Linked DNA regions of Homo sapiens. Changing the gene in region 1 together with any one later gene gives a genetic interaction. Each region holds a gene or a part of one and is shown in the gene's direction. Other genes may lie near its edges.

Evidence for each region.
Region 2: changes in STAT1 (region 1) and MOK together harm fitness more than expected from each alone (negative genetic interaction), as found in Homo sapiens cells (one study listed by BioGRID).

What each region holds. Positions count from the first base shown.
Region 1 is NC_000002.12:191,000,761-191,011,367, reverse strand, and holds part of STAT1 (signal transducer and activator of transcription 1-alpha/beta), read left to right. Parts: intron 1-918; exon of another isoform or gene 919-996; coding exon of another isoform or gene 997-1,001; intron 1,002-1,363; coding exon of another isoform or gene 1,364-1,364; coding exon 1,365-1,492; intron 1,493-2,224; coding exon of another isoform or gene 2,225-2,260; coding exon 2,261-2,405; intron 2,406-3,706; coding exon 3,707-3,805; intron 3,806-10,204; coding exon 10,205-10,294; intron 10,295-10,607. UniProt on the Homo sapiens protein: Signal transducer and transcription activator that mediates cellular responses to interferons (IFNs), cytokine KITLG/SCF and other cytokines and other growth factors.
Region 2 is NC_000014.9:102,300,706-102,311,530, reverse strand, and holds the start of MOK (MAPK/MAK/MRK overlapping kinase), read left to right. Parts: upstream 1-6,366; 5' UTR 6,367-6,562; coding exon 6,563-6,569; intron 6,570-10,825. UniProt on the Homo sapiens protein: Able to phosphorylate several exogenous substrates and to undergo autophosphorylation. Negatively regulates cilium length in a cAMP and mTORC1 signaling-dependent manner.

The sequences.
Region 1 (10,607 bases):
GGCGTTGCAGCTCCCATTGCCTGACGGTCCAGCATATCTGCTTTAGGTAGATCCTTATTAGTTACCAAGCAGGGAGGGAGACAGCCACAGATTTTTCCACTCAGGTAAAATAAAACTGAACTGAAAAATCAAATTGCTTCAGCAGGAGTGCCAAGGGGCTGGGCTTGGGTCCGTTTCTACTGGTATATATGAGGATAACTAGCTTTATAGGCCAGACATTTCCTCACACTCCTTTGGAAGGACATTTGTGGAGTAGGCGTGACCTCATGCCTGCATACATGTGCTCGGCTACAAGTATGCATACACACTCTTCCATGCCCTACTTGAAAATCCAGACTCCTTCCCCAGAGGTCTGGCAGGACAAGATTCACTTGTGTCTGCTCTGCATATTGCCACCTGTGTGCTGATATAAATCCTAAGTTACATGATGGTCATGGGAGACTCTCCGTTTTCCTAATGAATTTTAGGACTTGCTTATATCAAGTTTTTGTTGTGATTTTGAATCTTTAGGATCACTATGTAAAAATGGACTTAACAGTTATCCAAAAAGCTAAGTGTTACTTTATCCTTTTAAATTACATTTAATGATGTTTTAATCTTTAAAAATCATTACTTCTTTATGCCAGATTTATTGTTTGTAGTAGGCAAAGAAGAAAATATATCTTTTTAAATGTGTATAAGAAAAATAATGAATTTTACCATATGAATCATAAATATAAAACAGAAGTTTGAAAATATTTGAGTTAAATTACAAATGTACTGTGATTTGTAGGAGAGCAATTTTGGGAGAGTCTTGTGATTTGTCTTAAAGCAAGTCTAATTAAAATAATGTTTTTCATGTATTTATTTGATAAAATCACAAACTCATTTTAAAGGCATATTTATTGGATACCTACTATGTGGTTGACATTGTTCTAGGGATACACCAGTGCACAGAATCCTCCACCAACATCCATCCCTTCAAGTGGTGAAAACAGACAATAATGAAAATAAAATATGTGGTAGGTCAGATGGTGGTGTAAGTACTATGAAGAAAAATAAACCAGGGAAAAGAGAGAGCATGTTTCCAGGGTGGGAGGTGGTTGCAGTTTAAATAAAAGAGGCCAGAGAAGGCTGCCCTGATATGTTGACAATAAGCAAAGACATGAAGATGTGTTTCGTGGAGGAGAAAAAAAGTTCATCCCCAAACTCAATTAAAAACAGGCTTTAGACTATAAATGCCATTTAAATAAAATATTCCTGGGACAAACTATGTTTTGGATTAAGCAAGATATTTAAGAGTACAACCTGATGCTAGGAAGGCTTTCTTTGGAGCTATGGTTTCCATATACATAGAAAGAATGTATATTCTTTTTCCCTATAGGATGTCTCAGTGGTACGAACTTCAGCAGCTTGACTCAAAATTCCTGGAGCAGGTTCACCAGCTTTATGATGACAGTTTTCCCATGGAAATCAGACAGTACCTGGCACAGTGGTTAGAAAAGCAAGACTGGTAAGGAAAATTCACTAGACAGAAGAAGAAGTTTACACCTTAAAAGTACTGGTTGATTAAGTGACTTGGGGCCATGTTTACTGGAAGATGAATTCCATCAATGGCCACTGGAATTATTTGTTGTAGAAAAGTTTGTTGATTTAAAAAATGACTCAACAAAGTTGAGCCAAAAAGTGTCTCAACAAAGTTAAGTATATTAGTCATTAAGCACTTTTATACAGTTTTGCCAAATTTAATTTATGATAGATATTCCTAAATGCTTTGGACAAGTTACGGAATACTGACACCGATTATTTTCCAACTTAGGATCCAGACTATAGAAAGAAGTAATTTAAAAGAAATAAAGCCAAATTAATGGTTAAACATTGATTAGAAATATGAAGAAGGTAGTAAAATTAAGGGGATTTTTTTTAACTGATAGGTGTTCTACTTTAAAATTTATTATTTGCTAATTTAAAAACGTCCTGAAAGTATTTGACATAGAAAGTGAAGGGTCCCCTGTTGACTTTTCCCCCTTCAGAGATAGTCACCATGAACACTGTCATGCACAATCTCTTAGAGTTTAGAATTTTTTGTGCTAATTGCACATAAGAGAAATACCACATAAACTGCTGCTAAAAGCAATGTCAGTTTCAAAAGAAGAAAATAAACCTAAGAAAATACTTAAATTATTTTTAATAATTTCAATAAGGAAACCAACATTTGTTTTGTCTGTTTTACATAGACATTTAGTTCTAGAATGAAATGTGTAAATGTTAAATCTCCTAGGGAGCACGCTGCCAATGATGTTTCATTTGCCACCATCCGTTTTCATGACCTCCTGTCACAGCTGGATGATCAATATAGTCGCTTTTCTTTGGAGAATAACTTCTTGCTACAGCATAACATAAGGAAAAGCAAGCGTAATCTTCAGGTATGACCTGGTTTTTGTATTTTAGTTGAAATGTTCTCATGTTTATGGAAGGCAGTTTTCTTCATTCAGCAAATACAATTGAGCACACACTTATTGGTATTTAGAGAAGTAATAGAGACTAACTCCATTTATGTTTTCTACAGCATCAGTAAATATAGCATAAGTAAAATAAGATACCAATTTATTTTATAAACACAGAAGGAATTTTTAGGGTTAAATGTATCACCTCTTAGGTATCAGTAATCCTGAGAAAAATGTGATGCTATAATTTTGTTTTACTAAAAATTGTCAATATTTAAACCAAAGAAAAGGGGCTACATTTTAAGAGCAATGATCTATAGTAATACATTAAAGCTCCAGGGAACATTAGTGGTTAGGTTCAGGTCCTTGCTATGCAAATGAGGAATAAAACAGGAAAGGTTTGACTTTCACCTAAGGAAGTCAGGTGACTTCAGGAACTAGACTCCACCTTGCCTTGCTTCTGGTGGAGTTGGCCTCTCCTGGAAGAGAAAGTCAAAGAAAGATCCAGACATGAGAGAACATGCTATAGAGTTTTAGGGGTTCTTCAGATGTACTCCCAGCATGCCCTTGGGGTGGCTATCATATTTATGTTGTGTAATAACAGAACTTTTCTGTTTTAATGGAGGTGAAAGCTATCATTTTCTTCTTTCATACAATACAACTGAACTTTTCAGCTTAGGTAATTGGAAGTTGTTTTTTTTCCTTTGTGAATGTATTTATGATTTTATTTACGAGTGGGGAAATCAAATTAACTTTACAGAAATTTGTTCTCATACAGACCTTGCATGAATGTACCTGTATAAAGAGCCATTATTGCTATTGGTAGTGTTTTGCAAACTAGCTTTGACAATGGCAACAGAAAACCCTAGATGAATATCTTTGGTCTAGTTCAAAGCTTAGACCAACAGATGCATTCATTGAGGAATGTCATGTATAGTTTTTATATCATTTGCATTGTCTCGGGATCCTAACCAAAGATAATTGGCCTTAAGAAATATGGAAAGATATTAAAGTAAAAATATTATGTGAACCATATGTGAAAATACTTGTTTTTAAATCAAAAAGTACGTTAGGTACCTGCACTTAGAAAGTTAAAGCAATTTTTGTCATAATTCGTGAAAGAAATATTTTGATTTTAACAAACATAGCTTATATAGAATTTAATAGATGAGAGATGAGGTTTCCCGGAGAATATAAACAAATTCATATCAACTTACAATACACAATAAAGTAAACATTCTGCATTTTAATTTATTTTTGTTCTAACCACTCAAATCTAGGATAATTTTCAGGAAGACCCAATCCAGATGTCTATGATCATTTACAGCTGTCTGAAGGAAGAAAGGAAAATTCTGGAAAACGCCCAGAGATTTAATCAGGTACTTTTTTCTCATTGAACACATAAACTGTAATAAAATAAAAATGTATTCATTCATCAAATACTATTAGGGCCCATGTCAAAGCAATGATGAATATCTCTCTAATTTTATAGCCCCAAGAAGTGGGAGAATCAGATTTAGAGATTTTATAGAACCAGGCTTTAAGAAAGATCCTAATCTAATGGAATTAAGTTCTAACGAGGAGAGAGAACATATAAACAAGATACTTCTGGGTAGCATAAAGTGCTGAGAAGATAACATGCTGAATTCATGGAGTGGCTGGGAGTGGGGTTGTTCCTTTAGATCAGGGTCAGGAAAGGCCTCTGAGTTGCTGGCACAGGAATGGAAGCAGGCAGATAGAGGGTTCTTGCAGCTGTCCAAGGTAGAGGCAGTGGAAGCTTGCGCTCAGTAGAATCAGTGGAGGTAGGAAGAGGTGGACAGATTCAGGTTATGCTTTGGATGTGATACCAATATAGAAGGATCCTTATGTTGAAGGATTAGATGCAGGAGTGAGAGCAGAAAGTCAAGGATGGCTCTACAGCAGCTACTAGAACCCCTTGAAAAATGGTAATGCTGTACACGGAGCTGGGAAGGCAAGGAGGGGGCAGGGGCAGGAGTTTTGTAGGACTCAATAGGTTTGTGGAGAGAAAAGGAGGCTGATGGGAAAATCAAGGGCTTTGTTTTGAGCAACATCAAGATACCTATTAAATATTCAAGGCATCAAACAGTAAATGAGTCAGAGTTGTACTAGTATCAAGATTTTTGATCATTGTTTTATTAATCCTAATACAAACCTTCCTAGTTGTCAGGGTTCAGCAGAGTTTTGAATTTGCTATGGCATTTAGTATTCCTTTCTTGAGCACTGGGGTGGTGACAACAAGCCAACAGGCAGGCAGTGTGAAGCCACCATGTTATGGATTGTTCTGGAGGAGCCCATTGCTATATGGATGCCAGAGGACACAGTATGCATCCTGTGTGCATTTCACCAACAAATAACTACCGAAGTGAACTGTGTGACAGTGGAGAGGGAGGGAGTTTAGGTGTGGTGGAGGATGCCATTCTCCACACACTGCCTGAGCATTTGTCCCAGTCCTTGTAATCCTGTCACTTCCCTAGGCGTATAGTTCCCATCTTCTTGTCACACTGATAGCATCTTGCTGAACTGAGCATGTAAAGATACATATTGCTTATTCTAAACTCAAGCTGGCTAGCTCATCTGGTACCCAGCCTAGGGAACAAAGGTGTATATCAACGCTGGAGGAGAAGCTGGCCAGGTTGTCTCCTCTGAAAGAGGTGTGCCTGTCTCTAACCTGGCATATACCTGGGAGATTTTCAGCCGGCAGTTTTGATTATATGGGGCTTCCATCCTAAAAGTAGTATGCGTGGGCCTCCTCTGTATTTCTAATAGACTTGAAAGGACAGCCAGGAGCAAAGATGGGCAGAAGGACAACCTGTTTCCCCCAGCTGCAAGCATGTCATCCTCACATTTGGCCCCTTGGCCCAGAGATGGCATTGGCAGCAGAGTAGGTGACCCCTGCTCTCCCACATGAACCTCATCCCCTGGCTTTGGATCTTGAAGGTTTACCAGCTTTTGAGCTCCCTCCCCATTAAAAATGTAGGTAATCTGGGGATTGTTTTGAGCCTCTCAGAGGACACCTGAGTCCGTGAACACCTTTGCAAAGCCTTCTTGGGGTGTGAGGGAAGTTTCTGGGTGTCTGGGGATGTCAGGGAAAGGGAAAAGGCACAATAGGTGCCTCCTTTCCAAAGTTATCCAGCCAACTATTGGCTAGGTAGGTCAGAAACATTTCTTCACCATTTCCCCCCTTGTTGAAGTAACTTTATTTTATTAATACAGACATGCATCACTTAATGACACAGATACATTCTGAGAAATGCACCACTAGGTGATCGCGTTTTTGTGCAAACATTATAGAGTGCACTTACACAAACCCAGGTGGTATAACCTACCATACACCTACACTATATGGTAAAGCCTATTGCTCCTAGGCTACAAACCTGTACAATATGAAGTTGTACTGAACGCTATGGGCAATTGTAACACAATGTTATTTGTGTATCTAAACATAGAAAAGGTACAGTACAGATAGTGTGTAAAAGATAAAAGGTGGTACCCCCATAAAGCTCCATTCTAATCTTATGGGGCCACTGTCATATACGCGGTCCATCGTTGACTGAACCATTGTTATGTGGTACATGACTGTGTATATTCTATTCATGCTAAAGTATATGTGTATGGAATGGTGTGATGTCTGGTATTTGCTTCAAATAATCCCATTTGGGGACTAGAAGAGTAAGGAGAATAGGGATGAAACAAGGCCATCCATGAATGCTAATTGTTGAAACTGTGATAGGTACATGGGGATTCAACAGATTCAACAAGTTAAAAACATGCAAAATTCCGAGTTAGTTCAGATCATTTAGAGACCACAAAATTCTATAGACATGCCGAGATGGGAAATTATTGTTCCCATTGTTTTTTAATATAAGAGCTTTTAGAAAATACATTTAAGAGAATATTATGCTATACACACTGTAGTAGACTATAAATGTTTCGTGTGCTGTCTTACAGCACACTAAGTTTTTTTCTTTCTTTTTTTCTTTGTGGTGAAAAAGCTAGTTGCATGTCTAGACAAAAATTTAGGTCCATAGGGTCTGAAGGGATGGGGAGAATTTCTTTCAGGTGGGAGGGAAAGACATGAGGTGGATTCTAAGCTTCCTTTGCTGTTCCATCTTTGTGTTCTTAAGGACTAATGGTTACCATATGCTGAGTGCTTATCATGTTTCAGGCCCTGTGCTAAGCACTTTATAAACATTATTTCATTTGAGTAAATACTTTCGAAACTATCACTGAAGTTAGGTATTCTTATCCCCATTTTAAAGATGAGAAAACTAAGGTTTAGAGGTCAGGTACTTCACTCAGAGCCACAGAGCTAATGAGAAGTAGGTTTGGAATTTAAACCCAGTATTGTCCAACTCTAAAACTAGTTCACTGGAGAAGTCACTTTTCAGTTTTCTAATCTGTGGGATGGGATATGAGGGCTTTCTGGCTGGAACTTCTCACACCCATGGAGTGCCTATTCCCTTACTTGGACAACTGCTCACTCCATTGGAAAGGACCCCCTTCCTGAGCAGAAGACTTTTCTTTGCTCTGGGGTCTGGAGTAACCAAGTTCCCATCCAAACAAGGTCTCTAGAGGTACAGTAGTGAAACGAGAAAGTAAGAGTCAATGACAGCCGAAGTCCCTTCCAACTTCAGTGTTTGAAATTCCCGTGGTTTCAGTACTCCTGGTTTCTTAGAAAGTTAAAAAGTTAAGGACTCACTGTGAAAGTGGTATCAGTACTAAAGTGTACAGGAGCAGCCAAGCATCTGCTTAGCAGATGGGGGCAGGGTGGAGGGAAGCAGGGAGGGATGAGTGGAAGGGGTAAGAGAGCACCAAGGGTTTGAGTGACTTGGAGGGACTACTGCCCAAGTTGGAAGCAGGAGATTTCTTAGGCCCTGCCACAGTCACCAGGTTTTTCCACCAAGCATCTCCCAGCAAGTCAGTAGAAAGGGGATGTAGAAGCTGGGGATGTAGCTGCTGTTTTACAGCCATTGTTTATATCCCTGTTCTCTAAACCGAGCCTTGGTCATTTGGGAGGAGGCCTGGGAAGTCAGAATTCTCCAGTGGCCTGGTCCCTCTCTCTAGGTGTAGTGTCCCAGCTGTTACAAAGCCCACAGGACACCGTGCCCACATCCTGCTGGCTTAGAAGTTGTATTAGTCTGTTCTTGCATGGCTATAAAGAAATACCTGAGACTGGGTAATTTATAAGAAAAGAGGTTTAATTGACTTATGGTTCTGCAGGCTGTTACAGGAAGCATGGTGCTGGCATCTGCTCAGTTTCTGGGGAGGCCTCAGGAAACTTACAGTCATAGCAGCAGGTGAAGGGGAAGCACACATATCACATGGCCAGAGCAGGAGGAAGCAGGGGAGAGGTGCTCCACACTTAACCAGATCTTGTGAGAACTCGTGATCACAAGGATAGTACCAAGAGGATGGTGCTAAACTATTCATGAGAAACTGTCCCCGTGATCCAGTCACCTTCCACCAGGCCCCACCTCCAACAATGGGGATTACAATTCATGAGATTTGGGTGGGGACACAGATCCAAACCATGTCAGAATTAGACAACAGCAAAGATTTCCCTGCACAGGCAGAAAGCTGTATGGAACTCCTCAAAGTGACAACTTATTCCAACCGCCCAGAGAAACCCCTTTTGTCACTGAGTGATATGTGGCACCTTGGACTTACAGAGGATACCAGTAACATTCATGTATTTCTAATACACACTTTACAGCTGATACAATTCACATGCTTTGAACTTCTGCTGTTGGAGAATATGTAACATGAAGGAAAACTTCCTATGAAGAGAGAATAACTTTGATGACGTATGCCTGATAAAGATAAAACAAAAAATTATGGACCAATTTTACTTATGAGTATCAATATAAAAGTCCTCAATAAGATATTAGGGATCAGAATTAAATACTACATTAAGAAAGGACATGACCAAATATGATTTATTATAGGTTACAAGGGTAGTCCATGACTGGGCAACCTATTAATGCAATTCACTAAATTAATAGCTACAAGGAGAAAAAAGCATTTACTTCCTTCCACAGAAGCTGAAAAGATCTAACAGAATTCAATACTCATTCCTCATAAAAACATTGAATAAGATAGGAATTGATGGGTACCTCTTTAACACAAAAAAATATATATATCTCCATTCTAGAGACAGTATCTTACCTAACTGGGAAAACTCCAGTAAGTCAGAAACACAGCAAGGATGCTGTGTTTCCACTGCTATTTAGCATCGTATTGGTGGTATTGGCCAATGCAATTAGACAAGAGAAAACCATTAGAAGCATAAGAATTAAAAACAACATCATAAAGATGTTAGCTCTCCCTGAGTTAACTTGTAATTTTAATGTTATTCCAATAAAAATACCAACAAGTTGTTTTCTGGAGCTACACAAATTTGTTCTGAAATTTATGAAAAATAAACATGCAAGAGTAGCGAGGCAACTTCTGAACAAGTAGAGCAATGAAATGGGACTGGCCCTACTAGACAGACTATAAATCCTCTATAGTCAAACATCCTTCAAGGGTTCAGGCTTATGAATAAAAAGGCCAATGGGAAAGAAGAGAAAAATCTAGAAGGAAACCCGTGTGCATATGGAAATTCATGTGATAAAGTTGGCAGCTCAGAGCACTGGGGAAAATAATGGACTTTTCAGTAAATGCTGTTAAGACAAATGGAAAGCTAACTGGAAAAAAAGTGAAAGCAAAAAGTGGACCCATACTTCACTCTGATCATGAGAATAAACAAATATATCAGCGATCTAAAAGTTAAAAAGAAAAAAAGGAAACCTTGCAAGTGCTAGGGAAATGAGTGAATGATGTAATGTCAATAGGGAAAGGCTTTCTAATATAAGGAAAATTCCAGACATGAAGAAAAGATGATACAATTGCACATATAAAAACACCCCCGTAGAATCTGTGCTGTATAGGGCACTGTGTAAGAAAGGTTGACAAGCACAGTTTTTGCTGTGTGGGGGATTTAACTCTAAAAAAATAACATCTTTCTAGAATTTAATCTCTATGAGAACAGGGATCACTGGTTACCACTCTAACACCCGAGCCTAGAGCATTGCCTGACATTTACTTAGTACCTAGTATGTGCAGGGTACATCTGGTGTATGAAGCAAGTAGAGACCCTGTCACTTCTGAGTGTTCTGATTATCAAAAATAGGACTGAATACTCCCAGGCAAGTCTGGGTTTATATTCATTATTGACTTTATAGTAGCAGATTTTCATTGATGGCCTTAATGGAGTGATTTCATATTTCAGTATACCTCTGGATCACCCGGAATTGTGTTAAAATAGGGTTTTCTGATTGCCTAATCATATTAGCCCTTGAGATTTTCCAACAAGATCCTAGGTGGTGAGATGCTGCTGGTCTGAGGACCACACTTTGAATCAGAAAGCTTTAAGATAAATAAGGACTGAGTTAATGAGAGTAATCTTGTGTATAGTATCTGAGAAACCGTGAACTAAATTCCAGCGTGGTACCATGCAACTGTATGAATTAATGGAAACTCCCAGAAATACTGTTTATTTTAGACATGAATTGAGCCTAGTTTTTTTGTAACCTTGTTAACAGTTTGCCAGCATTTTCCAGGGCCTTGGGAAAAATTTCATATTGACACATAAGCAGGAAGCCTGTAGTACATGTCAGAAGATCTGGAAGGCAAGTGGGGACTTGACTTTGGAGTGTAACCAGCAAGTACACACCCTGAAGAAAACGATGGCTATAATCATGCCCTTCCCATTACAGGCTCAGTCGGGGAATATTCAGAGCACAGTGATGTTAGACAAACAGAAAGAGCTTGACAGTAAAGTCAGAAATGTGAAGGACAAGGTTATGGTGAGTATTGAGTAAACACATGCATTTATTCTGAAACTTTCTGTAGGGGAAAAAAGGTTTCAATTGCTTGGGGTGTAAACCTCGTAACTGAGTTCAGTCTTTTAAGTAGTTGGGAAGAAAAATTTTGCAGAAGTCTCAAGCTATAAGTAAACAAATTGGCAAAATCAATGACCAGATAGACTTTTTGAATGGCCTCTTATAACTGCCAAACATTGAGTTTAGCTTTTTCTTCCCTGAAAGATCATGCAGTAAATGTTGACTTTGCCCAGTACCCAGTAAATGAGATGTTGCTGCTCTAAATGGGCCTTTATGT
Region 2 (10,825 bases), on another chromosome or scaffold:
CAGCTAGTTTTTTTGTGTATTTTTAGTGGAGATGGGGTTTCACCTTGTTGGCCAGGCTGGTCTCGAACTCCTGACCTCAGGTGATCCACCAGCCTCGGTCTCCAAAAGTGCTGGGATTACAGGCTTGAGCCACCATGCCCGGCCTTCTACTACCTTTTGTAGTGGGTATTTTTTTTTTTTTTTTTGAGACAAAGTCTTGCTCTGTTGCCCAGGCTGGAGTGCAGTGGTGTGATCTCGGCTCACTGCAACCTCCGCCTCCTGGGTTTGAATGATTCTCCTGCCTCAGCCTCCCAAGTAGCTAGGATTACAGGCGCCCACCACCATGCATGCCCGGCTGATTTTTATATTTTTAGTAGAGACAGTGTTTCACCATGTTGGCCAGGCTGGTCTTGAACTTCGTCTGAAAAAACTCCGTCTCAAAAAAAAAAAAAAAAAGAAAGAAAAAGGCTCACCGGAACCTCCACCTCCCAGGTTCAAGCCATTCTTGAACCTCAGGCAATCCACCCACCTCAGCCTCCCAGAGTGCTGGGATTACAGACGTGAGCCACTGCACCCAGTCTGCAGTGGATATTTTTATCCCTGCTTTACAAAAACAAGAAAACAGCAGTACTACAACTTGGCAGGAGTTACATAGTATGAGTCTCTCTCCTACCACTTTAAGAGCTGAATTTTAAGGCCAGGTGCTGTGGCTCATGCCTGTAATCCCAGCACTTTGGGAGGCAGAGGCGGGCAGATCACAAGGTCAGGAGTTCAAGACTCCACCTGACCAACACAGTGAAACCCCTGTCTCTACTAAAAATACAAAAATTAGCTGGGTGTGGTGGTGGGCGCCTGTAATCCCAGCTACTCCGGAGGCTGAGGCAAAGAATGGCTTGAACCCGGGAGGTGAACGATCCAGTGAGCCTTTTTCTTTTTCTTCTTTTTTTTTTTTTTGAGACGGAGTGTCGCTTTTGTTGCCTAGGCTGGAGTGCAATGGCGTAATCTCGGCTCACTGCAACTTCCACCTCCTGGGTTCAAGCCATTCTCCTGCCTCAGCCTCCTGAGTAGCTGGGATTACACGCATGTGCCGCCATGCCCGGTTAAGTTTGTATTTTTAGTAGAGACGAGGTTTTTCCATGTTGGTCAGGCTGGTGTTGCATTCCCGACCTCGGGTGATCCGCCCTCCTTGGCCTCCCAAAGTGCTGGGATTACAGGTGTGACCCACCGCGCCCAGCCTTCTTTTGTTTTCTTTCCTTTTTTTTCTTCTTTTCTTTTCTTTTTTTTTTTTAAGGAAGGGTCTGGCTCTGTCGCCCAGGCTGAAGTGCAGTGTCACCATCTCGGTTTCCTGCAGCCTCTGCCTCCCAGGCTTAAATGGTCCTCCCACCTCAGCCTCCTGAGCAGCTGGGACTACAGGCATGCACCACCATGCCCAGTTAAGTTTTGCATTTTTTTTTTTTTTTTTGAGACGGTGTCTCCCTCTGTTGCCCAGGCTGGAGTGCAGTGGTGCCATCTTGGCTCACTGCAACCTCCGCCTCCCGGGTTCAAGCAATTCTCTGCCTCAGAGTAGCCAGGATTACAGGTGCCCACCACCACGCCTGGCTAATTTTTTTATAGTTTTAGTAGAGACAGGGTTTCACCATCTTGGCCAGGCTGGTCTTGAACTCCTGACCTTGTGATCTGCCGGCCTCAGCCTCCCAAAGTGCTGGGATTACAGGCATGAGCCACCGCGCCTGGCCAATTTTTGTATTTTTTGTATTATTATTGTTATTTTTTGAGACAACGGCTCTCTCCTGTTGCCCAGGCTGGAGGTCAGTGGTGCAAACATGGCTTATTGCAGCCTCGATTTCCCAGGCTCAGGTGATTCTCCCACTTTAGGCTTCTGAGTAGCTGGGACTGCAGGCACCTGCCACCAAGCCCAGCTAATTTTTTGTATTTTTAGTAGATAAGGGGTTTCACCATGTTGCCTCGGCTGGTCTCGAACCCCTGAGCTCAAGCCATCCGCTTGCCTCGGCCTCCTAAAGTGCTGGGATTACAGGTGTGAGCCACTATTCCTGGCCAGGAAACCTTTTCTTACACTTAAAAAATTCTAAATGTATTTCTTTGAGTTCCTTTTTCTCAGAAACCTACACAGACTTCTTCGTAGACAGAATTTTACCTATTTTTGCATCCACACTAGACCAGGATCTAATTTCTAGAGTGCTTGGTTAACTACCATCCTTCATGTTAATTTCAGTGGCTAATGTTTTTGCTCCTCCTTATTTAATATCCTTGTTCAAGCTTAGTTTTCCCTGAGATGTGTTTATTATTTTACAAAATCAATCTAATTTCTAATATCTTTAGGTAGATTTGCGTTTTACCCACTTTAACAGTGTTAACACGTTTGAAATGTCTGTCATCCCTAGCTTTTCTGACTTGTTTCCTGGTTTGAACCTTAATTCAGATGCTCAGCAGAAGGAAATAGGTTGTCTGCTAAACATAGCCACATGGCTGAATCCCTTGACATTGGCAAATAGGGAAAAACTAATGCTAGAATATGGGATGAACAGTCTGAGGGAGTTTTAGAACGATTCAAAAAGCTCAAGTGGTTATAATTAGGTAGTGTTCATACAGTTTTAAAAGCGGAGCTCTGGAACTGGGCGCGGTGGCTAACGCCTGTAATCCCAGCACTTTGGGAGGCTGAGGCAGGTGAATCACCTGAGGTCAGGAGTTCGAGACCAGCCTGACCAATATGGTGAAACCCCATCTCTACTAAAAATACAAAAATTAGCCAGGTGTGGTGGCACGTGCCTGTAGTCCCAGCTACTTGGGAGGCTGAGACAGGAGAATTGCTTGAACCTGGGAGGCAGAGGTTGTAGTGAGCCGAGATCAAGCCACAGTACTCCAGCCTGCGTGACAGAGCAAGACTCTGTCTCAAAAAAAAAAATTTAAAAATAATAACTTAATAAAAAAAAAAAGCAGAGCTCTGAGATGCGTGGTGGTTCCATTTCACAAGCGTTTCCTGAGCATGTAATATGTGCTGAGCAGGCTCCTGGCTCTGGGTGAGCTGGGCAGGTGAGAGGCTTGGGGTGAAGACCCTCTCTGGAGGAGTTCACAGCCTGGTACTTCTTACTTATCTGTCCATTCAGGGCTGGAGTGGCCCAGCTAGGCAGGTGCTGAGGCCACCCAGCTGAAGCCTGAACAGGTTGACCCCTCCGCTGATGTTTGAGCGTGTTTACCACAGGAAGAGAAGCTCCTCAGCAATTGTTCCTTCTTTTCAAAGCAGCATTTCCTATTTCATTTAGAATTAAAGAAAGAATAAGGAATTCTCTAGGCCAGTGGTTTTCAAAATATGGCCACTGGTGCAGCATCACCTGGAATTTTGTGAGAGCTGCAAACTATCCCCCACTCCAGACTTACAGATTTAGAAATAATGGGGCGGAAATCCCTGATCGAATGGAACATTCTGGAGTTCGTCCCCTCACCCAACCTTAAGATGAACTTGGAACAAGGGTGCTCAGCCAGAGGGGCAGGTGAGGCCGCAAGTCCAGCTGCCCCTGTTCACCTAGGTAAGCACATAGACTGTGTCTACCCCCTGGGGGCACCTTGCTCTAAATCATCTGCCCAATCAGGACCAACATGGTCTCTACAACGTCACTTCTGAGAACCACTTGTCCACAATGAAGGGAAGAAGAAAATCCATCAGCACCTGGTGAATTGGGAAACAATGGGGCTCTCACTTGCTAAATGCATTCACCTGTTCACTTATTTAATACACTCTGCCCTGCAGGGTAGAGAAAAGACACATGAGGGGCCCAAGGAACTTAGAACCCACCTGGTTAGAAGAAACTAACAAGCAAGAGACAGGGTTAGAAATATAAATGTGACATAAGGGCAAGCCCCCAAATAAGAAAGAACACAAGAAGAGAAGAAGGGATAGATCAAATCCTAGTGGTCTGGAGAGATTAGATGTGGCTTCTCAAAGCCAACAAAGATAGCACCACCAACAATAATACACCAGCAATAATCGCTATTTATTTTTTCAACTTTTTTATTGAGAGAAAATTTACATAAAATTCACCATTGTAACCATTTATTTATTTATTATTTTTTGAGATGGAGTCTTGCTCTGTCGCCCAGACTGGAGTGTAGTGGCAGGATCTCGACTCACTGTAGCCTCCACCTCCTGGGTTCAAGTGATTCTCCCGCCTCAGCCTCCTGAGTAGCTGGGATTACAGGAGCGCATCACCACACCTGGCTAATTTTTGTATTTTTAGTAGTGACAGGGTTTCACCATGTTGGTTGGCCAGCTGGTCTCGAATTCCTGACCTCAGTTGGTCCATCCTCCTCGGCCTCCCAAAGTGCTGGGATTATAGGTGTGAGCCACCACGCCTGGCTTGTTTTGTATTTTATTTATGTATTTGCTTTTTTAGACGGAGTCTCACTCTGTCGCCCAGGCTGGAGTGCAGTGGCGCAATCTCGGCTCACTGCAACCTCCGCCTCCCGGGTTCAAGCAATTCTCTGCCTCAGCCTCCCGAGTAGCTGGGATTACAGGTGCCTGCCACCACACCCGGCTCATTTTTCTATTTTCAGTAGAGATGGGGTTTCACCATCTTGGCCAGGCTAGTCTTGAACTCCTGACCTGGGGATCCACCCGCCTTGGCCTCCCAAAGTGCTGGGATTACAGGCATCAGCCACTGTGCCCAGCCGTTTTGTATTTTTTTAGTAGAGACGGGGTTTCCCCCATGTTGGCCAGGCTGGTCTCGAACTCCTGGACTCAAGTGATCTGCCTGCCTCGGCCGCCCAACGTGCTGGGATTGCAGGTGTGAGCCACCGCGACCGGCCGCTTTCTCTTTCTTTCGAGACAAGGTCTTGCTTTGTCACCCAGGCTAGAGTGCAGTGGTGCTATCATAGCTCACTGAGCCTAGAACTCCTGGTCTCAAGATACCTCCGCCTTATTCTCCTGAATAGCTGGGTTTACAGGCATGTGCCACCGTGCCCGGCTTTTTTTTTTTTTTTTTTTTTTTTTTGAGTCTCTTGCTCTGTCGCCCAGGCTGCAGTGCAGGTGGTGCAATCTCGGCTCACTGCAAGCTCCGCCTCCAGGGTTCACGCCATTCTCCTGCCTCAGCCCCCGGAGTAGCTGGAACTATAGCGCCCGCCACTACGCCCGGCTAATTTTTTTTGTATTTTTAGTAGAGATGGGGTTTCACCGTGTTAGCCAGGATGGTCTCGATTTCCTGACCTCGTGATCTGCCCGCCTTGGCCTCCCAAAGTGCTGGGATTACAGGCGTGAGCCACCACGCCCGGAGTTTTTTTTTTTTTTTTTTTAAGAGGGAAGTGGGGTTTCTCTATGTTGCCCAGGCTGGTCTTGAATTTCTGGCCTCAAGCGATCCTCTTGCCTCGGCCTTCCAAAGTGCTGGGATTACAGGTGTGAGCCACCACACCTGGCCAATTCAGTCTTAAACCAATTTTCTGAGGCTTCGTTTTGGCAAGGCTACTTATCTGTTTTAAAAATAAACGATGTATTTTAGTAAAAGAAAAAAAATGGAGGAAAAAACAGGGTTTTGATCTCATGGAATAATTATGAGGCTAATCTAATGAGCTTCATAAAATACTATACCCATACATAGTATGCTTGTTATTTTATTGTTTTGTCAGGGTCCAGAGAACTAGGCCACTGTGTTGCTTAGGCACCGTGTCTGCACATAGTTCATTCCGGTGTACATTCATTCATCTTTACACTAGAATGTTAGTTTCAAGAACTCAGTCACCTCGTCTACACTGTCCTTTAATCCCCAATACCTGCGACAGTTCCTGGGGCAAAAACAAATGCTTGTTGAATTAAAAAGAAAAACTGGGCCGGGCGTGGTGGCTCACGCCTGTAATCCCAGCACTTCGGGAGGCCGAGGCAGGCGGATCACCTGAGGTCAGGAGTTCGAGACCAGCCTAACATGGTGAAACCCCGTCTCTACTAAAAATACAAAAACATTAGCCGGGTGTAGTGGTGGGTGCCTGTAATCCCAGCTACTTGGGAGGCTGAGGCAGGAGAATCGCTTGAAGCCGGGAGGCGGAGGTTGCAGTGAGCCGAGATCACGCCATTGCACCCCAACCTGGGTAACAGAGCGACACTCTGTCTCAAAAAAAAAAAAAAATTCCTGTAGAAGCTCCCAAGCCCAATTAAAGCTCAAGGCTATCGTCCACGTAGTGGGTTCCAAATCGCTAAGTTCCCAGGCCAGCAGGGAGAGCGAGCCGAGCGAAGGTCGCCTGTGTCAAAGGCGGGGATTTGCACAGTATTTACATGGAAGCGGAGGAAAGGCTGCTTAGCAACCGGGCTGAGGGGACGGGCTGCACTGCGCACGCGTACATGGGCGGGGCATCTTGCGCATGCGCAGGCGACAGCTCATGGCGTTCAGGGCCTGACGGTTGCTAGGGTGACAGGGACACAACATGGCGGCGGGATCTCTAACGCTCTCCTTCGAGGGACCACCACGGAGATCCTAGTGCGGGACCCCGCCTCAGGGAAGTGGAAAGCAGGGGGACAACCTTCCTGCTTCTTTCTTTTCCGTCCAGTGTCGGCAAGGGGTTGTCACCGGCTTCCGCATCCAAGATGAAGAGTGAGTGGGGCCGGGGAAAGGGGCAGGGACTGGAGAGCGAGTGGCGGGGGAGGGAGGGACTGGGGGAGCTTGAGGAGCTTGAGGGGCCTGTGGGGCCGGGCGTCGTCGCCTTCTGCCGTGGCTCGACAGGCCCGGGAGGCTCCGCATGTGGGCCCCGAATCCCCCTCGGCTGTGAGAAGCCGGTGCCCCTGGGGGAAGCTTGAGGGGTTGGGGCTAGGTTGGGAACTTTGGGGTCTCGGAGAGCCGACTCGAGTTCCCGCTCAGGCATATTTTGGTGCAGGTGCGTGGTTCTTACATTGGAGTTTAGGGAGTTGACTGTGATTCATTTTATTTTATTTTAAATGCTGGCTTGAACCTGACACTCTTTTCCTGAACATTCGGCAGAAAACGGGGGAGCGCTTACAGCGTGGCTCCCTGCCTTTTCATGATACTGGTTTAGTGACCAATTGAGAGGAAAGCTGGGCTGTGTGCTTTATTTTATTTTTTGGGTCAAGCAGTAGTGTTTTATAGGAACCACTTTTTAATAGTAGTTTTGAAGCAACCTTTTAGTTAAAAGCTGTTACTTCAAAGTTGGGAAATGAGGTAGTCATTCTAGAAAATGTAACGGGTAAAAAATTTTCTTTAGTGGGATTTGTGGATTATTGACAATCCAAGTGCAACCAGCTAGAATGATGTTTTTAAAATTATTATTACTGTACAGATATAATTGTTTATGGTTGTGAACCAGAGGTGCAGTAAAAATTCAGACCTTTGCTGTGAAAATATTATGTTAGGAGTAGTTATAATGTTAAATTTGCATTGTATCCTAATTGTCAATGGTGTACATTGCATAACATTTAAAATAATTAATCTCATTCACCCTTTACAAGGCATTTTTATTTTTATTTTATTTTGTTGGATATTGTTTAATGTTTACCTTTTTCATTAATGCACTACAAAGCTGTAGTTAGAATCCAAGGTCTACAAAAGACTTTACACTTTTACTTACAGTGCAGACTATGATACTGCACATATTTTGTACTATATTCATTTTTTTCTTCCCATCTGTTTGTTTTGAAAATTTTCAGATGTACAGGAAAGTTGCAAGAGCAGTACATTGAATATTTATAAACCCGTCCTTCACTTAGCTGCACCATTTTGCCTTATTTTTGTGTGCTCGCTTTCGCTCTGGTGTTTTCTCTCTCCCATTTATGTATTTATTTTCACTGGACCTTTCAAGAGTTAGTTGTAGACTACTAATAATTCACCACTTCTTTCAGCAGTTATCTGCCAAGAACAAGGACATTCTCCTACATCATCACAGTACAAATAACACATTTAGAAAATTTAACAATGATACAATACTCTGATACACAGTCCATATTTCAGTTTTTCCATTTATCCCAATAACATGTGTTATAGTTGTTTATATTTTTTCTATCCAATCAAGAATCACCAATTGTATTCTGTTGTCATATCTCTTTGGTCTCTTTTAATATGGTGTCCCTGCCTTTTGTGTCTTTCATGACAATGATATTTTCATTTTTATTTGGCTGTCCTCTGTAGGCCAAATGACATTTTTAAAGAATCCAGCCCAGTGTTTTGCAGAATATCGCTCAATTTGGATTTGTCTGATTTTCGCCTCATGATTAGCTTCAGCTTAAATGTTTTTACCAGGAATATGTGAGAGGCAACGTTGTGTCTCTGTCAGTGTGGCCCTTCCAGAGTGCCTGATGTCAGTTCGTTGCAGTTTTGCTGAAGTTAGATTTGATCATTTGGTTTATTTATCTACCTTCTTTTTCTCTTAGACTCTTTTTTTTTTTGGACAGGGTCTCTCTGTGTCACCCTGGCTGGAGTGCAGTGGTGCAATCTTGGCTCACTGCAACCTCTGCCTCCCGGGTTCAAGTGATTCTCCTACCTCAGCCTCCCAAGTAGCTGAGATTACAGGTGTGCACCACCACGCCCAGCTAACTTGTATTTTTTGGTAGAGACGGGGTTTCAACATGTTGGCCAGGCTGGTCTCAAACTCCTGACGTCAAGCGATCCACCCGCCTCAGCCTCCCAAAGTGTTGGAATTACAGACGCGAGCCACTGTGCCTGGCCTTCCTCTTAGACTCTTCATACCCCACTACCTAGAGGCATCACTTTCAGTAATTTACTCTCTCTATATATATTATATATAAATATATAAATGTGTATTTCTCCCTTTTTAAAAGACTAATGTTAGCACTGCATGTGTATACCTATATAGAAATATGTACATATGCTGCCTGGGCGCAGTGGCTCACACCTGTAATGCCAACACTTTGGGAGGCCGAGGCGGGCAGATCACGAGTTCAGGAGATCAATACCATCCCAGCTAACACGGTGAAACCCCGGCTCTACTAAAAATACAAAAAATTAGCCAGGCGTGGTGGTGGGCACCTGTAGTCCCAGCTACTCGGGAGGCTGAGGCAGGAGAATGGCGTGGACCTGGGAGGCAGAGCTTGCAGTGAGCTGAGATCGGGCCACTGTACTGCAGCCTGGGCAACAAAGCAAGAGACTCCGTCTCAAAAAAAAAGAAAATAAATATGTATATATGCGTATATATATATAAAATTTACATTTGTGGGCCGGGTGCAGTGGCTCACGCCTGTAATCCCAGCACTTTGAGAGGCTGAGGTGGGTGGATCACTTGAGGTCAGGAGTTCGAGACCAGCCTGGTCAACATGGTGAAACCCCGTCTCTACTAAAAATACAAAAATTAGTCAGGCGTGGTGGCAGGTGCCTGTAATCCCAGCTACTTGGGAGGCTGAGGCAGGGGAATCGCTTGAACCTGGGAGGGGGGCGTTGCAGTGAGCTGAGATCGCACTACTGCACTCCAGCCTGGGCAACAGAGCAAAAAAAAAAAAAAAAGTATATGTGTGTATACATATAAAATTTACATTTATGGGGCGGGTGCAGTGGCTCACGCCTGTAATCCCAGCACTTCGGGACGCCGAGGTTGGCTGATCACTTGAGGTCAGGAGTTCGAGACCAGCCTGGCCAATGTGGTGAAACCCCATCTCAACCAAAAAATACAAGAAAAAAAAAATCAAAACAAAACAAAATACACAAAAAATGTACATTTATGATTTACTTCTTGTAAACTTTTGTTTTTAAAGTATATTTAGTATTGTTTGGTATGTTCTTTTAGATGGTCATTTTGGTAGTTTTCGGTTACTTGGTTTAGTGGTGACATCTTTATTCTCCCTTTCTTCCTTCTACCTTAAAATGTACTCTAAGAATTATTGTAACCTTTTATCCCCCTGGTTTACATCCTGATCATTAAATAAATGATTTAAAAATAGTTAACAATGGAGAGAATATTCCAGAACTGGAAATCACAGAGACAGAGTTATAGAAGTAGAATGATCAGGAAAAGTGAGTAATGGTGAAATTGGATCCATAGCTTGGGGTCAGAGTGGGGCTGGGAATGCTAGATTATTACAGGGGTCTGTCAGGATTTTCTAGGTATATTTTTGTACTTGTTTTCTAGGTGATGCCCTGTGTTTAGGGGTGTGTTATTCTGTGGAGTATTCCTGTCCTTCTTTTTATTTGGCATCGTTTGCAACAGTAGAGAGCAAAGAGTGACACAGTGCAGTTGATAAGAGCGTGGGCTTTGGAACCGGGTGGGCATGGCAGCTTCAGGCATGTTACTTTTTCTTATACTGCTTTTCTTCATTGTTCCGGTTATCTATTGCTGCGTAACAGATCACTTCAATTTTGTGGCTTAAAGGAACAACAGTCCTTCTTGTGGTTCTTCAGGTTGCCTGGATTCAACTAGGCAGGTCTTACTGGAAGTCTCTCATGCACTCAGATGGTGGCTGGAGCTGAAGTCATCTTAAAAGTTTGTTTTTTATTTTGAGATGGAGTCTCACTCTGTTGGCCAGGCTGGAATGAGTACAGTGGCACAATCTTGGCTCACTGCAACCTCTGCCTCCTGGGTTCAAGCGATTCTCCTGTCTCAGCCTCCTGAGTAGCTGGGATTTTAGGCGCACCACCACACCTGGCTAATTTTTATATTTTGAGTAGAGACGGGGTTTCACCATGTTGTTCAGGCTGGTCAAGAACTCCTGACCTCAGGTGATCCACCTGCCTTGGCCTTCCAAAATGCTGAGATTACAGGTGTGAGCCAGTGTGCCCAGCCCACATTCATCTTTAAACAGGGATGATAATACCAATCACATAGCATTGTTTCAAAGATTAAGTGAAATCATCTATATAAAGCTCATAGCACAGTGTCTGATACATGATAA